2 separate regions of the Homo sapiens genome follow, and region 1 is linked to region 2. The links come from fine-mapping of genetic effects on gene expression. Tissue or cell type: whole blood. Region 2 holds a variant in brackets; the other region holds the start of a gene. All regions are shown on one strand. Distances are from middle to middle. Region 1 holds the start of RPRM (reprimo, TP53 dependent G2 arrest mediator homolog). Region 2 has its middle 43 kb from the start of RPRM.

Region 1 (11,702 bases), 44 kb after region 2:
AGTATTTTAAGCTTCTCAAATATAATAATAATCAAAAAATAAGATGTATACATATAAATTCAAAGTATGTTACTATGATCACCATAAATGATACATGACTGATAATAATATTATATAATTAATTTTTCTGAAAGTTAATCCTGGACTTTCAAGTCTTTTAAACATTTAAAACAACACAAAAATATCAGGAAATGAGAACAAAGTGAGATTGGCCATGGAAACAACTTACTATTGAGCATTTAAATTCAGACATTAGGAAACAATTACTACTGAGGCAGCTGCTTTTAAAACATATCCCATTTGAGCTATTGTGCATAGGTCTACATGGGATTTGACAGGTAGAAAAAATATTTGTTGATTCCTGTTTGGAGGATTGCTGCAGACTTGCTGCTTCCACAGGCTTTCAAATTAGGTTTGAGTCTTACAGAACAAACCGAACCCTGGAATCTTTCCTGTCATTGTAACCCCCAAAGTGAGAAGTAAAATAAGCCAGGGTTAAGGAAGGCTCTAAACTGCATGTGGAACAGGTGCTGTGTGCTGTTGCAGAAACTCAAAAGGAAAAATGCTTTAGGGAGAAAAAGTGGATGTTAAAGAGTCTTCAAACACCCTAGTAGTTTCTATAAACAACAGTGCATATTAGTCTGAATGCGTACCTAGAAGAATTGCTTACTCCCCAGTACAATGGGCTTTACTTTCATGGCTTTGTCCTTTGAGAACGCAGAGACCTGGAAATTTAAGGTGCTGGTGAGATCATGCGTAATCGATCAGGTTAAAAACTGTCATCTACTCTGGCCTGGCTAGGTGTCTGAAATTTTGCTTTGATTATTGTAAATAACTTATTTCCAGTAGAGGAGCACTTGTCTTTTGTGAGAAAAACATCTACACAAAAGATCAAGACTGGAAAGATAAAATATATTTTTAAGACACATAATTAAGAGATTTATGAAACATCTTAAGAGAGAACACGTTAAACCAATTAATTCAATGGAATCATAGAATTGGAAGGTTCTTTAGAACCCCTCTTCCTTATTTTAGGGATCAGGCCATTCAGCTGCTTAGTGACCAGAACCAAAATTTCTAAAATCTCAGCCCAGTGTGTCTTTCCCTTCCTAATTCAGAGTTAGTATAGGAAGACACAGTAGCAGGATTGACTTGCATCCAGTGAGAAGCCAGGATGGCTTGGAAATCAGAAATCATGGACCATCTACCAGGAACTAGTGTGATCTCAGACTTGACAGAGTAGTGTGACCTCTGCTTTCACTTCCTTAAAGCTGTCCAGCACTCAAGCTCTTGCTACATTTTCAGAGAGAGTGGGGAGATTCGTATCAACAATCTTAAGAACACTTATCAACAATTGGTTAAGCTACTTATACAGAGGCCACCCAATTAAGCTAAGAGGTATCACTAGCTGTCTGCCCAGCCTGAGATCCCACTAATCCACCAGCTGTGTTTCATGAAAACTTCTCCCTGCATTTGCTGTATTTCCAGAAGGGCTTCAGGAAATATCAGATAAGTCCCCCTGGGCCATGTCAGATCAAGCAAGCTTTTAGAGGAATCTGTCTCTGTCTCTCAGGGACTCCCACTAATTACTGACCAAATGGTGGACTTCAGTGTGGCATGGTAGAACCTGCCTGTTAAATTTATGTATCTAAACTTCTGGTCTCTTAAGGCTGACATTGTTTTCTTAGGTGAAACACAGACAATGGCTTTCAAAACCTTTTTTTCTTAGAGAATGTCTCTGGGAAAGGACCGACACTCCATAAATTCTGAGCAGGATTAAAATGTTTCATTTAAAGCAGTTGTTAGAATGAGGGACAAAGAGAGTCAAAGGCAGAGTGAAAGAGGGAGTGGTGTGGCCCCAGAAAGTGGTTGCTCTGTGGCCATCGGGGAATAGAGAGTGTAAAAAGCTTCTTGCACACATTGCCTCATCTATAAAAACCAGAACTACTTGGCATCTCTCTAAGTAACAAATGGATCTAAGGGCTGGAGAGAAGTGTTGTTGGCAGGAAGTAGTCTCCAGGGCTATGTGCATTGCAGACTGTGCATTTCCCTGTAGTGCATAGATCATAGATTACAAAGCTGTGTTCACATACCTTTTGTATCTAAGGACTACATTTTGCAGGTTTTGGCTTGTTTCATGCACAATTTCTGGGGGTGAGAGAATAAATGTGGATAGTTGAGATAAAGAGAAACTGCATTTTGCTTTTGAGATGCAGGGAAGAGGAAAGAGATGTGAAGAAATACTAAGAGGAACAAGATAGAGAAGATAGAGGTCTTCAACCTTGGCTCCTCTCTCAACTTTCAGGACTTTCAGGACTTTTGTTTTAAATGAAAACCTGTGTTCTATACAATTTAAAATTGACCTGTAGGTTTGACCCCTCCTTCAGCCTCCGCGTGTCTGAAACTCTAAGCATGTGCCCGTACACAGCAGAGTAAAATGCAAGATTTCTACACTCTAGCTGATTTGTTTTTTTATCCCAAATCGAATTCTACCAGAGTACTGGATTCACAGGTGAGCTAATAAATCTTCCAGAAGAAGGGACCCTCAGAGGATGTTGCAGCCACAGCGTGAGTTAAATTTTAAGTGTCTGGTTTGTCCCAGAGAATCCATTGCTCTGCTTTGTGTCTCCCTTTGAAACATGCAGGCAGCAGATTAACTCGGTGCCACAGAAACTGTCTATAAAATAGAACATTGCCATTTCTTGTCCTGTCGGTTAGCAAAAGTAGATTGCTTTCCAAGACTCCTACTGACTACCTATTGACTATCTCTTGACCCTGCCCCCTGCCCAGATACCAAAACAACAAACAAGCAAACAAACCCTTACCTGTTTAAAAGACAGGAACAACAAGCAAAACTTCAAAATCCTCTTTTCTCAATCCTGATATCCATTAGAATTCAAAAAACCATCCTAGGTTGTGATTTCTAACAAGGTTTACTTGAGAGCGAAATGGACACTTAATAGTGGATATGACATTAAAGGCACTCAAAACTTTTGATCCCAATCTTTGAGTCGTTAACATTGTTTACACCAGTTGTGCTTCTTTCTGAGTAAATGGAACACTTTATTATTATTTGATTTTAGTTACTCTTATAGCTGCCATTGTGAAGTCTTTGAAATTTTAATTGCTATATAGCATCCTAGTGGATTCTTTATAGTCTTGAAAATATTTAGGATCCTGTCTCAGGCATAAAAATAAACTGCTCAAAACCTTTTGTCAAGTTTATGCTCGAAGCTATTGTATCCTTTGGGTTATTTTCACAGGCACGGTTTTTAGGCGTTTCTTTCTAACACTGTTGAATTTCTGAACCTTAAATGTGTCAACGGCCATCTGTAGTTCTACTCCAAATATCCTTCCCAGTTGGGGTTGTAATACTCATCTCCCACATTCAGGACCTCGGCTAACTCCTCTCAACCCTTTGCCTGGTCTGGGGCATACTAAATTACAAAGAACAGGCTGAATCTTTTAACGTGGTCTTTTTGCTAGAAAAAGTAATATCACAACGACAGTAATGCATCTCATGTTTTAGTAACAATGGTTTACCCTAGGGAGCATTAACGTCACTAACGTCACTGTGTACCTTAGCAGCTACTTTTCCTCGCATTTTATAATTCCCCTTCCCTCCGCCCCCCGGCCCCACCCGTGGGCAGCATCCCAAAGCCGCCTGGCTGACGTTGGTTAGGGTAGAGACGCCCTCCCTAAAGGCTGTCCAAGCCGTCTCTTCCTTTCATTAGCGGTGTAATCCTGTGTTCCCGCCGGAGCCTGGCACGGAAGTGTAATCTTCCCGCGGGGGCCCTTCTGTCGTCTCGCCTACCTGAGAGCTGAGACTAAATGAAATATAAAATATTCACGATAAGAGGAAACAAAGGATGCTGCCTCCAGGACGGCTACTGTGCCTGAGGCTGGGCTCCTTCTCAGTCATCCCAGGGCCTCTCCGTCTGGCCCCACCCTCGCCCCTCCAGGGGATCCACAAGTTGAATCGCAGCTCTCCAGGGTTAATTGCCCTGGCCGGGAGCCAGACTCCTCACCGCCGCCCCGTTCCCCCCTGCTGGGGAGCGCAGAATGACCACCAGGAGGCCAGGAACAAAACGCTTAAATGTTGCATTTATTAAGGAAATGTTAAATAAGAAAAAAACAAAAAGTCAAAACGGTGTCACGGATGTCAAGAGCACTTTTGTGGCGTAAACCGTGCAGTCACGAGCTACGAGTTCTATTCTGGGTCTTTGTCCCAGGGCCAGCAGGAACGCTAGACGCCTCCCAAAAGACCCAGTGGGAAATGCACTAAAAGAAACAACTCACCCCGTTCAAATTCGCAGGCTCCCCCTCCCCCCACCCCTTCTCCCACAATGACAAAACTGTAACTCCTCAGGCAGGCAAACAGGCCACTGGGGCAGAAAAAGACTTATCAAACATTTGTATTCAAGCAAACAAACACAAAACCTCTTAAAACGGCACGTTACAATCAAAGGTATTTATCGCCCCTCCCCTCCAGGGCAGGGGGGGAGCAGGAGAAGAGTGGGAGCGCACCCGGACACGGATTTGTGAGACCCCATGAGTCTGCTGCGTGGCTTTTAACAGGTCACTCTTCCGGTCACAAGGCGATCAGTGCCGCTGGGTCTCTCCCCTGCCCGCCCTCTCCACCTGCCCCCAGAGCTTGGCCCACCTGCGGGTGGAGAAGGGCCTTCGCACCGTCGGTCTCCCCGCATTCCAAGTAAGTAGCAGCTTCCAAAGTTCTGCGCCCTAATCGCCCTCTTCTTGCCACTTTCTGCTGAGTTCAGAGTCTGGGCGCTCTCCTCCGACTGCCAGGCATGAGGACTTTCAGAGGGCGAGGGAGAAACCGGTCGCTTCTTTCCGAAAGGCCGAAGTCGAGAGAAATAATTGACTCCGACAGGTTTGCTTCGCCCAGTCTCTGATAGTGAGGGGCACAGCCGGGCTAGCAAAGTGGGCAGGCGTGGGAGCGGTTGCCGCGGGGGCAGAGGGCGGGTCAGTAGGGCCCCACGACCACCGCCTCCACCTCCTTAGACGGCCTCCGGTCCTTCACGAGGAAGTTGATCATGCCCTCGGACTTGATGAGCAGATTGCAGCCGAGGAAGAAGATGCCGAAGACCACGGTGAGTGAGAGCACGCACATGACCGCGATCTGCACCACGCGCATTATGTACAGGCTACGCTCGTCCGGGCCTCCCTCCGCGAAGCCGTCGTCGGTCACCACGGACGCCTGGGTGCAGCAGCGCACGGCTCGCTCCAGCGCCTCGCTGCTGTTGGCCAGGAACAGGCCCGCCACGTCCGTCTGGTTGCCTAGGGCCGGATTCATCGCAGGAACGGGCGGGCGCCGCGAGCGGCGCGGGTCCGAGGGGTGGGAAGGCGGCGGCGCTGGAGGAACAGGTGCCGGGCTGAGCGCTCACTCGCAGACTAGCGCGTGCGAGGGCTCCTCGCTCTGCTTTCGAAAGTCCCTGGGCCGTGGGAGTTTCCCAGGAGCCTCTCCGACGCGCGCAGCAGCTAGGCTCTTCTAAAGCCGTCCGCTCCAGCCCTGGTGGTGCTCGTTCCCGGCGCTCGCTCGAGGGGGGGCTGTTGGAACTTGGCGGGGCTGGACCAGCCCGGCCGTGGGAGGTGCGGGCCGCGGCGGCTGCAGCGGCGGGGTGGCTGCGCTGAGCAAACAGCGGCCCCTTCCGGCCGCACCGCCGCGCTGCGCGCTGCTCTTGGGAGGTGGAGGAAGCAAAGGGGCGAACCTGGTCTTGCTTTTTATTGCTTGCTTCTTTTGCAAACTCCAAAGGCCAGGCAGAGGTCACTGTACTCTTCTAGCTTGATGGATGATTAAAGAGTTTGTCGGGGGAGGGTGCGGTCAGCTGAAAGTTTCAGAGGAACTGGGACACACGAGCTCTGCGTGTCCTTTGCCTGCTGCCCCCCTGACCTCTGGGCGAATGGAAAGTGGCGATGAATCGCAGGTGCCAGATGGTGCCGGCTGAGGCCACCCGCCCACTGCCTGTGCTTGACTCCGACTCGCCTGCGTTGGATTTCTAGTGGAGTGGAGGTGATCTGAGAATGTTTCTTACAAAGCAATGAATTTGGAAAGACAGAAAGGCATGGAAGAAGGAAGGAAGAAAGGAAGGAAGGAAAGAAAAAAGGAAGGGAGGGAGAAAGAAGAGCTCTACACCCAGCTTCCTTTACAAAAGCGATTGGGAGACAGAGCAAGGCAGGTTTTACCGTGAGGTTTGAGGCCAAGGAAAGAGGGTTAGAGGAAGGAGGAGTTCTTCTGTGGCCCTTGGGTGGAGGTAGTTGCCGGGAGCAGGGTCACCTCTCTGGTAAAGGAGGTGAACAGAGTGACCACTTGCTTGTAATTTTAATTGCAGATAAGTTTTTGGATGTGCTTCCAGCATTTTGTCCGTTGGCAGTAAATCAGTTGTTGAAGGGAATTGCTCATCAACATCCATCACCTAGAACGCTGGCCAAATACTGGGAGCCCTCCCCATTTTCCATAAGCTGATGTATTTCACCCTTAGTCATTTAAACTAAACACAGATGTTTTTATAGGCCTGATTGACGCTTCAGCCATTGTGATTTTGCTCTAGGTTCCAACGAAATTCTATAAACCTGTCAGATTAAGTTTCTTAACTCTGAAAGAATATTGCATGTTCCCGCTCCCCCTTTTCTGTTTTCTTTCCCCTCCCTCCTTTTCCCCATTACTCCCTGCCTTCCTCCCTCTTTCTTTCAGCTGTAACAGCTGGAAACCAGTAACTTGAGCTTCCAATAGAATACATTTACTTTCTATTAAATGTTCTCACCACAAAGAACTGATAAAAATTTGAGATAATGGGTACGCTAATTACTCTGATTTGATCATTCCACATGTATATGTGTATCAAAATATCACTTTGTACCTCATAAATATGTACAGTTGTCAATTAAAAATAAAATAAAACTGAAAAATAGTAGCTGTCTTGCCATTTTCAACTCTACTCTTAATTTCATTCTGTTTGCTTGGTAAATCCTCTTATTTCTGTTTCTTAAAACATCATTTATTCCATCTTCAGAGTGTTCCTTAAATGTTTTTGCACTGCTTCATGACTATCATAAAATAGAATGAAATGCCTTCTGGTTGAGTTTTCAATTTTTTGATATTTATGGTATATCAGCTGCAATAAGTTTGATTTTTTAAAATAGCTATTATTATTTTGAGGGGGATGTTTAACAGCTGAAAATTCAGGCTTGGGCTTCTACCACAATTCACTGGCTTATTGTTCTAGTTTCCCATAATTTAATTAGAATTGAAAAATACCTCACTCTCGGCAATTTCTTCTTTGAAGAAATTTATTAATAATTGATAAGTAAGAATTTACTTAAATCTCATCATACAATCAGTCTATCTTAGTTAATGTGGGTAGTCCTCAAGAATAATAAAACGTAATGTATACATGGAAAAAATTACAACAAATTTAAGGCAATATAAAGTCATCCTGAGATGAATGGTAGAGAAAAGTAATAGAAATTTAGAAAAATAAAAGGTCAGAGAACAGAGGCCCACCTCCAGGGATCAAGTTGTACAGAACTGTGTGTTCAGTAGAAGTTAGGTGTAAGCAAATGGAGAGCCCCTTCTTTATGTGACAAAAACCAAGAGTTAGTTTATAGTACATTTGTAAGATCCAATATGGAAGGATGCTAAAAGTGTTAGTTGAATCATTATCAGAATTTGAGTATATTTATTGCTAGGAACAGTATTGCTGTTTTCGTCAGGTCAGTGTTAAAATGATCAAACCTTGGAGTCAGGAGAGTTTTTATATTTAATCAAATCTTTGGGTGGGATCTTTTCTCTCAGGTTTAAGGACTAATTAGTCACAAAATTGTTGACAAGGTAATAGGTATTTCCCCCATCAGCTAGTTCAGCTCTCTGGTTTTGTTCAAGACAATCTTGGGATTGTTTCCCTTATTTTCCCTCCACTCTGATTTTGTTTAATAAAATTACTTAGAACATATAGATGGAAATTAATTATAAACTTAGTCATACAAAAATTATATTTATTATTCATTCATTAATTGACTTAAGGGGATCTGTGTTGCTAGAGAAATCTTTATGTTTTACAGAATCCCTTTTATTTATCTTTTCCTTTTGAATTTTCAGTGAACAATTTCAGTTTTTCTCCTTTTATTCACCTGTTTCTTAGGAGAATCTCACAAGTGTGAAAAAAGAAATCTTTAAGAAATGTTGACATTGAAAAACTTAATTTCCAGAAAAATGGATGAACATATGGTATGCAGGGAGCATACTGGTAATTCACTTTAAAGCAAAGATTTTTGATACTGAGAAAGACTAACTGCTGTATTTATTTAACTAGTGTCCTCTTCTACTTCATTGGAAATAGGTAGGTGTGATTTTATGAGAGTTAAAGGCCCAGTATTTTATAACATACATGTTACACAAGGACAGAAACACTGCCTACTCTTTCTGGAAAATATATCCTTGGCCTATAATGCATTCTGTAAAGGTATTTTTACAGAATGCTGATATGGATGGTTGCTGTAATTTATAGTTTGAATAGCCTTGAAGTAGGACCAGATACTCAATGCCAAAAGATTTTTGATTTTCTCTTTTTGTACATTATGAAAATATTAAGCAGATATTTTAAAAAAGGAAATATCAAACATTGAAAGGATATTTATTGCTTTGGGGCAAGCTTTTTAAAAAATAAATTACATTATATTACACAATGTAAGCAGGAGTAAGAGTAAGAACTCAAATTCAGAAGCCACTCATAATAGCAGATTCCATAGCCAAAACATAAGAAAAAAGCCAGAAATAAGCAAAATAGTTTATTGAACCACCAAAATAAATGTCGTAAAAGCTAAATACCTAAGCTCATATATTTCACCCTTAGATTATCCCTCCCCAAATTCTTTCTCAGAACCTACGACTTTGATTTTTCACAGTTTTAACTCACTTCTTTGTCTATTTTTCTTAATGACAGGATATCAGTATCAACATGTGTTCTGAAGAGGAGGAAATGGCTAGGGGGTAGGTGCTTTTACAACCACAAAGAGTAACAACAGAAGGAAAAAACAGAATGTTAAACAGCATACACAGACTTTCTAAGAGTATTAAGTAATAGTTTGGAGACATTTAATATAGAGACAAGCAGTCTAAATGGCAAGTAGACTACATAAAGGCATGGCTTTCAATCCTGTTGTCTTTACTTACAACCATGTAATCTTGGGCATGTTTTTTGTTTTTGTTTTTGTTTTTTGAGATGGTGTCTCGCTCTGTTGCCCAGGCTGGACTGCAGTGGCACGATCTGGGCTCATTGCAACCTCCGCCTCCCAGGTTCAAGCGATTCTCCTGCCTCAGCCTCCTGAGGAGCTGGGCTTACAGACATGCACCACCACACCTGACTAATTTTTTATATTTTTGGTAGAGACAGGCTTTTGCCATGTTGGCCAGGCTTGTCTCAAAACCCTAACCTCAGGTGATCAGCCTGCCTTGGCCTCCCAAAGTGCTAGGATTACAGGCGTAGCCAACGCACCCAGCCTTTTTTTTTTTTTTTAAATCCTCTATGTACCTCATTTACTTATCTGTTAAATGGGGATAACACTTTACAGAATTTTGAAAGGATTGATCTATTCTATGGAAACAACTGGAAAACAGTACCTAGCACATAGCAAGATCTCAAATACAGATATATTGCAATAGTTCCTGAGGTGGACATCAATATGCATAAGTCATTAAATGAAAAAAGCCATTAAATTTTATTCAATAGTTTTCTTCTAAGAAGTCTGGAAAGTGAGTGAAACATTTTAGAAAGATTTCCATATAAAATGGTTGACCTTGGTGAGTAAAAAATGCTAAGGATGTGGAGAAATTGGAACCCTCGTGCATTGCTGGTGGGCATGTAAAATGGTACAGCCATTGTGAAAAACATTATGGTGGTTCCTCAAAAAATTAAACATAAAATTACCACATAATCCAGCAATTCCACTTCTAGGTATATACCCCTCAACATTGAAATCATGTACTTAAACAGGGATATGTATATTACTGTTCATAACAGCATTGTTCACAATGGCCAAAAGGTGGAAGCAACCCAAACGTCCATCAACAAATGAAGTGATAAACAAACTGTGGTATTTACATAAATGGAATATTATTCCGCCTTAAAAAGGAATAAAATTCTTTTTTTTTTTTTTTTTTTTTTTTGATACGGAGTTTTACTCTGTTGCCCAGGCTGGAGTGCAATGGCGCAATCTCAGCTCACCGCAACCTCTGCCTCCAGGGTTCAAGCAATTCTCCTGCCTCTGCTTCCTGAGTAGCTGGGATTACAGGTATGAGGCACCATGCCCAGCTAATTTTGTATTTTTAGTAGAGACGGGGTTTATCCATGTTGGTCAGGCTGGTCCTGAACTCCCGACCTCAGGTGATCCACCTACCTTGGCCTCCCAAAGAGCTGGGATTATAGGTGTGAGCCACCACGCCCGGCCCTGCCCTGAAATTCTTATAGATGTTACAACATGTATGAACCTTGAAGACATTATGCTAAATGAAATAAGCCAGATAAAAAAGAATAATATGGTATGATTTCACTTTTAAATGAGGTACCTAGACTAGCCAAATTCAGAAAGCAGCATGATAGTTACTAGGGATTGGGGAGAGGAGTAACAGTAGTTATGGGTACAGAGTTTGAGTTTGGAATGATGAAGAGTTTCTGGAAATGGATAGGGTGATGGTTGCACAAAAATATGAATCTACTTAATGCCTCTGAATTGTACATATAAAAATTGTTAAAATAGTTTTATGTTTTATGTACTTTACCACAATAAAATATTCTAAATATTTTAAATTAGATTTGAGATAAATATTTACATTTTTGAAAATACAGAACACTTAGAAAATAATCCCCCCAAATGTATTACTCTCATAGCTCAAAGATACTCACCCTAGTAATGTAGACTATTTTTTTCTTTTTACTATACTTATTTGAACATAGCCATGACTATATAGTAAATACAATTTTATACCTTGCTTTTCCTTCTTAATACTACATTTGTCCATGGCATTAAAAACTTATATACACATTTTAGTGAGTATAGTATTCCATTATGTGAACATACTATAATTTATTTATTAAACCATAACTGAGCAGTTATATTGATCTCGAATATTGTTATTGAATTAATTATGCACAAAGAACATTTTTCCTTATAATGTTTCCTATATTTAAATTACACTTTTAGGATGAGTTTACAAATTGAAATTTTTAGTAAAAACTATTATTTTTACAGAAAGCAAAAAGCAACCAAATTGTTTGCCAAAAAAGGTGTACCCGATTTTTACTCCTATTTGTAAAGCATGCAAACACCCATTTTATCCTAATCTTTAGAGCATTAGTTCTCAACTTTGGCTACATGTTAAAATCACCTAAAGATGCTTTAAAATTTTTTATACCCAAACCAAACCCACAATGATTAAATCAGAATTTCTGGAGGTAGGGCCCAAATGTCAGCATTTCTCAAAATCTTCCAAATGATTCAATAGTCTAGCCTGATTGAAAACCATTGTTTAATGTTTTCCAAGCTTGCCTTAAGATCAACTAGGATGGGGATGGGGGATAACTGGTTTCTGCCTCCTATTGCCAGTCAATTGAATTAGAGTTCCCCAAACTTGCTTCCTGGGTCTATCTACTGAGATTTTGCTTTGGTCAGTTTGAGGGGATTCCTAT
Region 2 (11,702 bases):
CATTTGACAAAAAAATGACTGGCATGTGTGAAACATTGTGCTAAATAATCAGAAAAGTAACTTTTCATAGAGCATGGTTAATTTTACCTTAACTTAGTAGAGATAGTTATATCATCTTGGCAGTGTTATTCACAATCTCAAACATCTTCCGAGAGAAAGCAGCAGCATTAATTAAAAATTCCAGAGCAAAATTAATGTCAGACTTCAAATAAAAATAATTAATTTTCAAAATTTACCCTCTGCTGGTATTTCGAAGTACAAAATTTATTTACCTTATATTATTAAAATAATGAGATCTAGCATTTATAAAATATTATACATTTGCCTTCTTCATCCAAATGTTTTTACATATACTCCTTAATTTTGCCCTCACCATCACCTATTTTTGACAAACTATTTGACTAAGATTTTAAATATAAAAAGGGCAGTAAGCACTTAATATTTATATCATTTTTTAATTCATCAAAAATGTAAATTGTATCCTCACCAGGAGAGTGAGTCACTAATAGACATAAGAATATGTTGTATTTATAATAAATCTTACAGGGATTGCTTTGTATGCATTTAGACTGCAAATGGGAACTACAATCATGGGAACTGTGTGAATCATTATGTTTCACAGTATGAGATGCCTTGCCTCAACCGTTAAGTGATGAGAGTTTTAGATTGGACTTATTAAATGTGTAATTATATACAGAGATAGCAACATGGACTATTGAGGTTTGAGAAGATTTGTACATACTTTGAACCCTAGAGCACATGACTTCTAAGAAACAAATGGAGGCATAATTTTCAAAATAAATAGCCAATTTTAATTTTTTTTTTTCTGTGGGGGAAACAAAAATTAGTGAAAGTTTGCTAAACTGTTATAGGTTGTGAGTTTTTATGATACCATCTGCTGTTGTAGCATAATTAGATATTTTAAAAATAACATTTAATTTTGTAACAAGTAACCCTTTACATATGTGACTTATAAAGTTACACGTGGTGTATTCTTTTAAGATTTTCATTAATACTAATGGCTTCCTGTCCCCTAAAATGCAAATGATAGGTATTAATAGATAGGTAGGTAGGGAGAGAGAGAGAGAGAGAGAGAGAGAGACTAAGTCTAGCTTATAATTTCAGGGGGATCACAGATCTCTTGAGTCTTTAAGTATCCATTGATCTCGGATGCTCTGCCATGACAGTTGCTTCATATATTTGAATATGTCAATAAACTGCTTATATCCTGGGTATAGAGAACTCACCTGAGGATAGTTATGTTATTTTGATATAAGACCCCTGCTTGAGCTACTCATTTAAAATTTTATAAAGGAAATAAATTGCTTAAATTGAAATCCTCACCAGCTCTTATATTTCTATATAGGGTTTAAACTATTTAGGATTATAAGAGGAATGATATTTAAAAGTTGACGTAGCCAGGCATGGTGGCTCACGCCTGTAATTCCAGCACTTTGGGAGGCTGAGGTGGGCGGATCACAAGGTCAGGAGTTCGAGACCAGCCTGGCCAACATGGTGAAACCCCGTCTCTACTAATAATACAAAAATTAGCTGGGCATGGTGGCACATGCCTGTAATCTCAGCTACTCTAGAGGCTGAGGCAGGAGAATCACTTGAACCTGGGAGGCGGAGGTTGCAGTGAGCCGAGATTGTGCCACTGCACTCTAGCCTAGGCAACAGAGAGAGACTCTGTCAAAAAAAAAAAAAAACAAAAAAAGTTGACATAATTAGGTATACTGTATTTTACTAGGACAATTTTTACTGATGTTATAGTTGCCTAGTTTAAGTTAATAACCTAATTTTGCCCTTTCTTTTTTGTCTTAGGCCTTGAGCATCTTTCCAGATTTTTTCTGCTGAGCTCACCATTATTTTGGCTTTGAAACTCAGTGTGATAGAGGTGATCGTGAGGCATGCCATGTGTAGATGTCTTTCAGCTAATAAATGACCATCCTAAAATTGAGCTTGTCAATAGTGGCTTTTCAGATGAGAGCAGGGACAGAACCTCACCTAGGTATACACTTGGCTTGATTTAAATTACAATTGCACAAAAACAGCAAAGAAGTTAGCAGTAGTTTTGCCCCTTGGTTCTCGAGACCATGTTCATCTGATTACAAAAGACACAGCAAGTGCTGCTCAACCTCCTGCTCCCTTTCTAGGCTTCTAGCCCCTCATTTTGCCTCACAGGAGAGCTCTACTGGACAGACAATTAGCATGGGATTGGAGGCCATTCTCCAGCTTTCTGCATCTGTCAAATGATGGAGAGGGTTTGCCTTTTTCAGATCTTTGTGAAAGGGATCACCCATTTCTTTTAAACATCTAATATATTTCACACAGAATGGCTATAAAAAGTAATCAGTTACATGTATAACACCATTGCTTTCTCAACAATCAGTGAAGACAGTTGAATTTACAGCCAGAAGACAATCACATTATATTGGACCACATATTCATACTTCATTTATTTCTCCCTCAAGTATTGCAGCTGTAATAGCTCCTAGGAAGCTTTAAAAAATATGCAAGAACATTTTAAACTTCCAGGAACACTCAGACTTCAAACTACTTTTTCTTCTTGTATAACATCTTTAAATAATTAATTTTTTTGTTTCTTTTTTAGTGTTCTGGTTTGGGAAATATTAAGATAACTGGAAATGGGAAAAAAAAGGAGAAGGAATTTGTGATTTTTCAATTTCCATGAAATCAACAACCTTGCTTCCTAGAGTGGATTCTTACAGAGGTCAATAGTACACTTGTGTGTTGTTGAAAATTGTTAACACTCCTATCTAAAAGCCACAGGATAGTATTCCAAAGACTGTGAACAACAACTCCAGGGCTCCCAGGGATCCTCAGTTGCTGTTACCACCAGTGGATTTTTTTCAAAAGCATTTTTAAGAAATGGTCATAAGCAGGAATCAAATGGTTTGGAATGAATCTGTTTTGTTGGAAGAAGGGGTTTAATTAACTTTCGAGCTGCACAAATTAATCTGGACTTTAGTGAGGGCCTGAAAATTGATTAAAATGTGAGCACCTTTTCAGAAAGTATTTGACCAGGAAATAAATTCATTTCTTCAAGGTCAGTGACCCTACAAGTTGACAAGTGATTCAGATTAATACACACTTGGGTTTCAAGTTTCACCTATTGCTTGGCAGAAGCTTCTGCCCCATCCCCCACCCCCAGTGCTGCTTGTCATCCACCTGATCTAGTTGTCACCTTTTCTTCTGGACTGTTTTTCTGACAGAAACCCTTTGCAGAGTTTTTGGCTGGGGGGTGGGGAGGTGGTTGGGGGGCATTGCAATCAGTGCAACGTTTCATTTTAGTTGTTTTATTGAAGATTTAATCAACATTATGATTTAAAAATAAGGCAGAAAATAACTTCACCTAGATTAAACTTACCTCTTAAAGATAATAAATGTCCATCAAACAGAATGATTTGTAAAATAGTTTCATAAAATCCTACTTGATTTAATGACCTACCTAATTTTTGCAGTGTCTTTTATTTTTTCTTCTTGGGGGCTAAACACACATAACACGCACTCATGCACGTGCACACACACACAGGCATATACATAGACACTCCAAGCATTTGGAGACTCTCCTCTATATTATCTAGTAATACAAGCTCAGAGGTCAAGCCTTACTGTAAGAGAATATGGAAATAATTAGAGAAATTTTGTGTGAGAGTAAATGAAGAGACTATTTATTCTAAGAAGAGAGGAAATTGTAAAAATAAAAAGTCTCATCATTGATTTCAAAGGAGAACTTGAAACAGGATTCAATCTTGCTACCCTCATTTAAAAAATAAGAAATTGTGGTCTTAGAAGGTTCTGATCTACCACATTCTTTCATAGTTCACATGAAGTGGCAATGGGATGATTTAAGGTGTTTTTATTTCCCCTTGATTTAATGTCAAGTATAATTTAGTGGACAATTATATGTAACACCTTTGATAATTAATTTTCCACTCCAAATTAGGCTTTGGCAATCCTCTTATCCTGGTGTCATTATTCTTATAGAATACTGTACACGTTAACTTTGTTTTCTTTTCTCATTCCCTATTAATGCTTGTTTTTTCAAATAAATATTAACTATTCCACATAACTTCTAAGTAAAGTTTCAGACTTTAATAATACATTTTTTTAATTACAGAGTCAGCATATTCTTTGCAAAAAAAATCCTTAGCAAATACCTAGAGAAGGTAGAGTTTAGCGGAGCAGGAATTTTCTTCATCTTTTAAATTAAAAAATTGAACCAACTCTCCATGTACTTCAACAACTTTTTACCCTCAAAAGAGAAGAGTTTTAACATCATTAAATCCGAACATATATTTGAAAAAATTAGAAATAATGGCCTTATCAGATAGTTACTTATACTTTTTTTTAATTTTATTATTATTATACTTTAAGTTTTAGGGTACATGTGCACCACGTACAGGTTTGTTACATATGTATACATGTGCCATGTTGGTGTGCTGCACCCATTAACTCGTCGTTTAGCATTAGGTATATCTCCTAATGCTATCCCTCCCTGCTCCCCCCACCCCACAACAGTCCCCGGTGTGTGATGTTCCCCTTGTTGTGTTCATGTGTTCTCATTGTTCAATTCCCACCTATGAGTGAGAACATGCGGTGTTTGGTTTTTTGTCCTGGCAATAGTTTGCTGAGAATGATGGTTTCCAGCTTCATCCATGTCCCTACAAAGGACATAAACTCATCATTTTTTATGGCTGCATAGTATTCCATGGTGTATATGTGCCACATTTTCTTAATCCAGTCTATCATTGTTGGACATTTGGGTTGGTTCCAAGTCTTTGCTATTGTGAATAGTGCTGCAATAAACATACATGTGCATGTGTCTTTATAGCAGCATGATTTATAATCCTTTGGGTATATACCCAGTAATGGGATGGCTGGGTCAAATGGTCTTTCTAGTTGTAGATCCCTGAGGAATCGCCACACCGACTTCCACAATGGTTGAACTAGTTTACAGTCCCACCAACCATGTGAAAGTGTTCCTGTTTCTCCACATCCTCTCCAGCACCTGTTGTTTCCTGACTTTTTAATGATCACCATTCTAACTGGTGTGAGATGGTATCTCATTGTGGTTTTGATTTGCATTTCTCTGATGGCCAGTGATGATGAGTTTTTTCATGTGTTTTTTGGCTGCATAAATGTCTTCTTTTGAGAAGTGTCTGTTCGTATACTTTGCCCACTTTTTGATGGGGTTGTTTGGTTTTTTTCTTGTAAATTTGTTTGAGTTCATTGTAGATTCTGGATATTAGCCCTTTGTCAGATAAGTAGGTTGCAAAAATTGTCTCCCATTTTGTAGGTTGCCTGTTCACTCTGATGGTAGTTTCTTTTGCTGTGCAGAAGCTCTTTAGTTTAATTAGATCCCATTTGTCAATTTTGTCTTTTGTTGCCATTGCTTTTGGTGTTTTAGACATGAAGTCCTTGCCCATGCCTATGTCCTGAATGGTATTGCCTAGATTTTCTTCTAGGGTTTTTATGGTTTTAGGTCTAACCTGTAAGTCTTTAATCCATCTTGAATTAATTTTTGTATACTGTGTAAGGAAGGGATCCAGTTTCAGCTTTCTACATATGGCTAGCCAGTTTTCTCAGCACCATTTATTAAATAGGGGATCCTTTCCCCATTTCTTGTTTTTGTCAGGTTTGTCAAAGATCTTATAGTTGTAGATATGCGGCATTATTTCTGAGGGCTCTGTTCTGTTACATTGGTCTGTATCTGCTTTGGTACCAGTACCATGCTGTTTTGGTTACTGTAGCCTTGTAATATAGTTTGAAGTCAGGTAGCGTGATGCCTCCAGCTTTGTTCTTTTGGCTTAGGATTGACTTGGCGATGCAGGCTCTTTTTTGGTTCCATATGAACTTTAAAGTAGTTTTTTTCCAATTCTGTGAAGAAAGTCATTGGTAGCTTGATGGGGATGGCATTGAATCTATAAATTACCTTGGGCAGTATGGCCATTTTCACAATATTGATTCTTCCTACCCATGAGCATGGAATGTTCTTCCATTTGTTTGTATCCTCTTTTATTTCCTTGAGCAGTGGTTTGTAGTTCTCCTTGAAGAGGTCCTTCACGTCCCTTGTAAGTTGGATTCCTAGGTATTTTATTCTCTTTGAAGCAATTGTGAATGGGATTTCACTCATGATTTGGCTCTCTGTTTGTCTGTTATTGGTGTATAAGAATGCTTGTGATTTTTGCACATTGATTTTGTATCCTGAGACTGCTGAAGTTGCTTATCAGCTTAAGGAGATTTTGGGCTGAGATGATGGGGTTTTCTAGATACACAGTCATGTCGTCTGCAAACAGGGACAATTTGACTTCCTCTTTTCCTAATTGAATACCCTTTATTTCCTTCT[C/G]CTGCCTGATTGCCCTGGCCAGAACTTCCAACACTATGTTGAATAGGAGTGGTGAGAGAGGGCATCCCTGTCTTGTGCCAGTTTTCAAAGGGAATGCTTCCAGTTTTTGCCCATTCAGTATGATATTGGCTGTGGGTTTGTCATTGATAGCTCTTATTATTTTGAGATACGTGCCATCAATACCTAATTTGTTGAGAGTTTTTAGCATGAAGTGCTGTTGAATTTTGTCAAAGGCCTTTTCTGCATCTATTGAGATAATCATGTGGTTTTTGTGTTTGGTTCTGTTTATATGCTGGATTATGTTTATTGATATTCGTTTGTTGAACCAGCCTTGCATCCCAGGGATGAAGCCCACGTGATCATGGTAGATAAGCTTTTTGATGTGCTGCTGGATTCGTTTTGCCAGTATTTTATTGAGGATTTTTGCATCGATGTTCATCAAGGATATTGGTCTAAAATTCTCTTTTTTTGTTGTGTTTCTGCCAGACTTTGGTATCAGGATGATGCTGGCCTCATAAAATGAGTTAGGGAGGATTCCCTCTTTTTCTATTGATTGGAAGAGTTTCAGGAGGAATGGTACCAGTTCCTCCTTGTACCTCTGGTAGAATTCGGCTGTGAATCCATCTGGTCCTGGACTTTTTTTGGTTGGTAAGCTATTAATTATTGCCTCAACTTCAGAGCTTGTTATTTGTCTATTCAGAGATTCACCTTCTTCCTGGTTTAGTCTTGGGAGGGTGTATGTGTACAGGAATTTATCCATTTCTTCTAGATTTTCTAGTTTATTTGCATAGAGGTGTTTGTAGTATTCTCTGATGGTAGTTTGTATTTCTGTGGGATCGGTGGTGATATCCTCTTTATCATTTTTTATTGCGTCTATTTGATTCTTCTCTCTTTTCTTTATTAGTCTTGCTAACAGTCTATCAATTTTGTTGATCTTTTCAAAAAACCAGCTCCTGGATTCACTGATTTTTTGAACGGTTTTTCATGTCTCTATTTCCTTCAGTTCTGCTCTGATCTTAGTTACTTCTTGCCTTCTGCTAGGTTTTGAATGTGTTTGCTCTTGCTTCTGTAGTTCTTTTAATTGTGATGTTAGGGTGTCAATTTTGGATCTTTCCTGCTTTCTCTTGTGGGCATTTAGTGCTATAAATTTCCCTCTACATACTGCTTTGAATGTGTCCCAGAGATTCTGGTATGTTGTGTCTTTGTTCTCGTTGGTTTCAAAGAACATCTTTATTTTAGCCTTCATTTCGTTATGTACCCAGTAGTCATTCAGGAGCAGGTTGTTCAGTTTCCATGTAGTTGAGTGGTTTTGAGTGAGTTTCTTAATCCTGAGTTCTAGTTTGATTGCACTATGGTCTGACAGACAGTTTGTTATAATTTCTGTTCTTTTGCATTTGCTGAGGAGTGCTTTACTTCCAACTATGTGGTCAATTTTGGAATAGGTGTGGTGTGGTGCTGAAAAAAATGTATATTCTGTTGATTTTGGGTGGAGAGTTCTGTAGATGTCTATTGGGTCCACTTGGTGCAGAGCTGAGTTCAATTCCTGGATATCCTCGTTGACTTTCTGTCTCATTGATCTGTCTAATGTTGACAGTGGGGTGTTAAAGTCTCCCACTATTATTGTGTGGGAGTCTAAGTCTCTTTGTAGGTCACTCAGGACTTGCTTTATGAATCTGGGTGCTCCTGTATTGGGTGCATATATATTTAGGATAGTTAGCTCTTCTTGTTGAATTGATCCCTTTACCATTATGTAATGGCCTTCTTTGTCTCTTTTGATCTTTGCTGGTTTAAAGTCTGTTTTATCAGAGACTAGGATTGCAACCCCTGCTTTTTTTTGTTTTCCATTTGCTTGGTAGATCTTCCTCCATCCCTTTATTTTGAGCCTATGTGTGTCTCTGCATGTGAGATGGGTTTCCTGAATACGGCACACTGATGGATCTTGACTCTTTATCCAATTTACCAGTCTGTGTCTTTTAATTGGAGCATTTAGCCCATTTACATTTAAGGTTAATATTGTTATGTGTGAATTTGATCCTGTCATTATGATGTTAGCTAGTTATTTTGCTCATTAGTTGATGCAGTTTCTTCCTAGCCTCGATGGTCTTTACAATTGGCATGTTTTTGCAGTGGCTGGTAGCGGTTGTTCCTTTCCATGTTTAGTGCTTCCTTCAGGAGCTCTTTTAGGGCAGGCCTGGTGGTGACAAAATCTCTCAGCATTTGCTTGTCTGTAAAGTATTTTATTTGTCCTTCACTTATGAAGCTTAGTTTGGCTGGATATGAAATTCTGGGTTGAAAATTCTTTTCTTTAAGAATGTTGAATATTGGCCCCCACTCTCTTCTGGCTGGTAGAGTTTCTGCTGAGAGATCAGCTGTTAGTCTGATGGACTTCCCTTTGTGGGTAACCTGACCTTTCTCTCTGGCTGTCCTTAACATTTTTTCCTTCATTTCAACTTTGGTGAATCTGATAATTATGTGTCTTGGAGTTGCTCTTCTCGAGGATTATCTTTGTGGCATTTTCTGTATTTCCTGAACTTGAGTGTTGGCCTGCTTTGCTCGATTGGGGAAGTGCTCCTGGATAATATCCTGCAGAGTGTTTTCCAACTTGATTCCATTCTCCCCATCACTTTCAGGTACACCAATCAGATGTAGATTTGGTCTTTTCACATAGTCCCATATTTCTTGGAGGCTTTGTTCATTTCTTTTTATTCTTTTTTCTCTAAACTTCTCTTCTTGCTTCATTTCATTCATTTCTTCTTCCATCGCTGATATACTTTCTTCCAGTTGATCGCATTGGCTACTGAGGCTTGTGCATTCATCACGTAGTTCTCGTGCCATGGTTTTCAGCTCCATCAGGTCCTTTAAGGACTTCTCTGCATTGGTTATTCTAGTTACCATTCATCTAATTTTTTTTCAAGGTTTTTAACTTCTTTGCCATTGGTTCAGACTTCCTCCTTTAGCTCAGAGTAGTTTGATCTTCTGAAGCCTTCTTCTCTCATCAAAGTCTTTCTCCATCCAGCTTTGTTCTGTTGCTGGTGAGGAGCTGTGTTCCTTTGGAGGGGGAGAGGCGCTCTGATTTTTTGAGTTTCCAGTTTTTCTGCTCTGTTTTTTCCCCATCTTTGTGGTTTTATCTACCTTTGGTCTTTGATGATGGTGACGTACAGATGCGTTTTTGGTGTGGATGTCCTTTCTGTTTGTTAGTTTTCCTTCTAACAGTCAGGACCCTCAGTTGCAGGTCTGTTGGAGTTTGCTGGAGGTCCACTCCAGACCCTGTTTGCCTGGGTATCAGCAGCAGTGGCTCCAGAACAGCAGATATTGGTGAACCGCAAATGCTGCTGCCTGATCGTTCCTCTGGAAGTTTTGTCTCAGAAGAATACCTGGTGGTGTGAGGTGTCAGCCGCCCCTACTTGGGGGTGGCTCCCAGTTAGGCTCCTCAGGTGTCAGGGACCCACTTGAGGAGGCAGTCTGCCTGTTCTCAGATCTCCAGCTGCGTGCTGGGAGAACCACTACTCTCTTCAAAGCTGTCAGACAGGGACATTTTCGTCTGCAGAGGTTACTGCTGCCTTTTGTTTGTCTGTGCCCTGCCCCCAGAGGTGGAGTCTACAGAGGCAGGCAGGCCTCCTTGAGCTGTGGTGGGCTCCACCCAGTTCGAGCTTCCTGGCTGCTTTGTTTACCTACTCAAGCCTGGGCAATAGCAGGTGCCCCTCCCCCAGCATTGCTCCCACCTTGCAGTTTGATCTCAGACTGCTGTGCTAGCAATGAGGAAGGCTCCGTGGGCATAGGACAATCTCAGCCATGTGTGGGATATAATCTCCTGGTGTGCCGTTTGTTAAGCCTGTTGGAAAAGCATAGTATTAGGGTGGGAGTGACCCAATTTTCCAGGTGCCATCAGTCACCCCTTTCTTTGACTAGGAAAGTGAATTCCCTGACTTGTTGCGCTTCCTGGGTGAGGCGATGCCTTTCCCTGCTTCGGCTCACACATGGTGCACTGCACCCACTGTCCTGCATCCACTGTCCGGCACTCCCCAGTGAGATGAACCCGGTACCTCAGTTGGAAATGCAGAAATCACCCGTTTTCTGTGTCGCTCACGCTGGGAGCTGCAGACTGGAGCTGTTCCTATTCGGCCGTCTTGGCCTACTTATACTTTTTAAAACATACTTTTAGTTCTGTGCAGGATGTGCAGGTTTGTTACATAGTATACACTTGCCATGGTGGTTTGCTGCACCCATCAACCCGTCATCTACATAGGTATTTCTCCTAATGCTATCCCTCCCCTAGCCCCCCACCCCCAACAGGCCACAGTGGGTAATGTTCCCCTCCCTGTGTCCATGTGTTCTCATTGTTCAGCTCCCACTTATGAGTGAGAACATGCATTGTTTTGTTTTCTGTTCCTGTGTTAGTTTGCTGAGAATGATGATTTCCAGCTTCATCCATGTCCCTGCAAAGGACATGAACTCATCCTTTTTCATGGCTGCATAGTATTCCGTCGTGTATATGTGCCACATTTTCTTTATCCAGTCTATCATTGGTGGGCATTTGGGTTGGTTTGAAGTCTTTGCTGTTGTGAACAGTGTTGCAATAAACATATGTGTGCATGTGTCTTTATAGTTGAATGATTTATAATCCTTTGAGTATATACCCAGTAATGGGATTGCTGGGTCAAATGGTATTTCTGGTTCTAGATCCTTGAGGAATCACCACACTGTTTTCCACAATGGTTGAACTAATCCACACTCCCACCAACAGTGTAGAAGTGTTCCTATTTCTCCACATCCTCTCCAGCATCTGTTTTTTCCTAACTTTTTAATGATCGCCATTCTATCTGGCATGAGATGGTATCTCATTGTGGTTTTGATTTGCAGTTATCTAATGACCAGTGATGATATGCTTTTTTTCATATGTCTGTTGGCCTCATAAATGTCTTCTTTTGACAAGTGTCTGTTCATATCCTTTGCCCACTTTTTGTTGGTATTGTTTGTTTTTTTTCTTTTGAATTTAAGTTTTTTGTATCTTCTGGATACTAGCCCTTTGTCAGATGTATAGAATGCAAAAAATTTTCCGATTCTGTAGGTTACCTCTTCACTCTGATGATAGTTTCTTTTGCTGTGCAGAAGCTCTTTAGTTTAATTAGATCCCATTTGTCAATATTGGCTTTTGTTGCCATTGCTTTTGGTGTTTTAGTCATGAAGTCTTTGTCCATGGCCATGTCTGGAATGGTATTGCCTAGGTTCTTTTCTAGGGTTTTTATGGTTTTAGGTTTTGCATTGAAGTCTTTAATCTATCTTAAGTTAATTTTTGTATGAGGTGTAAGGAAGGGGTCCGGTTTCAGAT

The links. PIP is the estimated chance that this variant, and not a neighbour inherited with it, causes the effect.
Region 1: it holds the start of RPRM, and the variant in region 2 is fine-mapped to the expression of RPRM in whole blood (INTERVAL, PIP above 0.99).

What each region holds. Positions count from the first base shown.
Region 1 is chr2:153,473,252-153,484,953 of GRCh38, forward strand. It overlaps RPRM (reprimo, TP53 dependent G2 arrest mediator homolog), which reads right to left and starts at 5,511. Exons shown (of 1, transcript NM_019845.3): 1 at 4,087-5,511. The coding sequence starts at 5,314. The coding sequence ends at 4,985. It also overlaps a transcript of GALNT13 not described here. RefSeq lists enhancers at 3,678-4,181, 4,182-4,685, 4,686-5,189 and a silencer at 5,546-5,745.
Region 2 is chr2:153,429,454-153,441,155 of GRCh38, forward strand. It overlaps a transcript of GALNT13 not described here. Among named protein-coding and RNA genes, the nearest start is that of RPRM, 43 kb to the right of the region's middle. The variant C/G (reference allele first, on the strand shown) is at 6,374.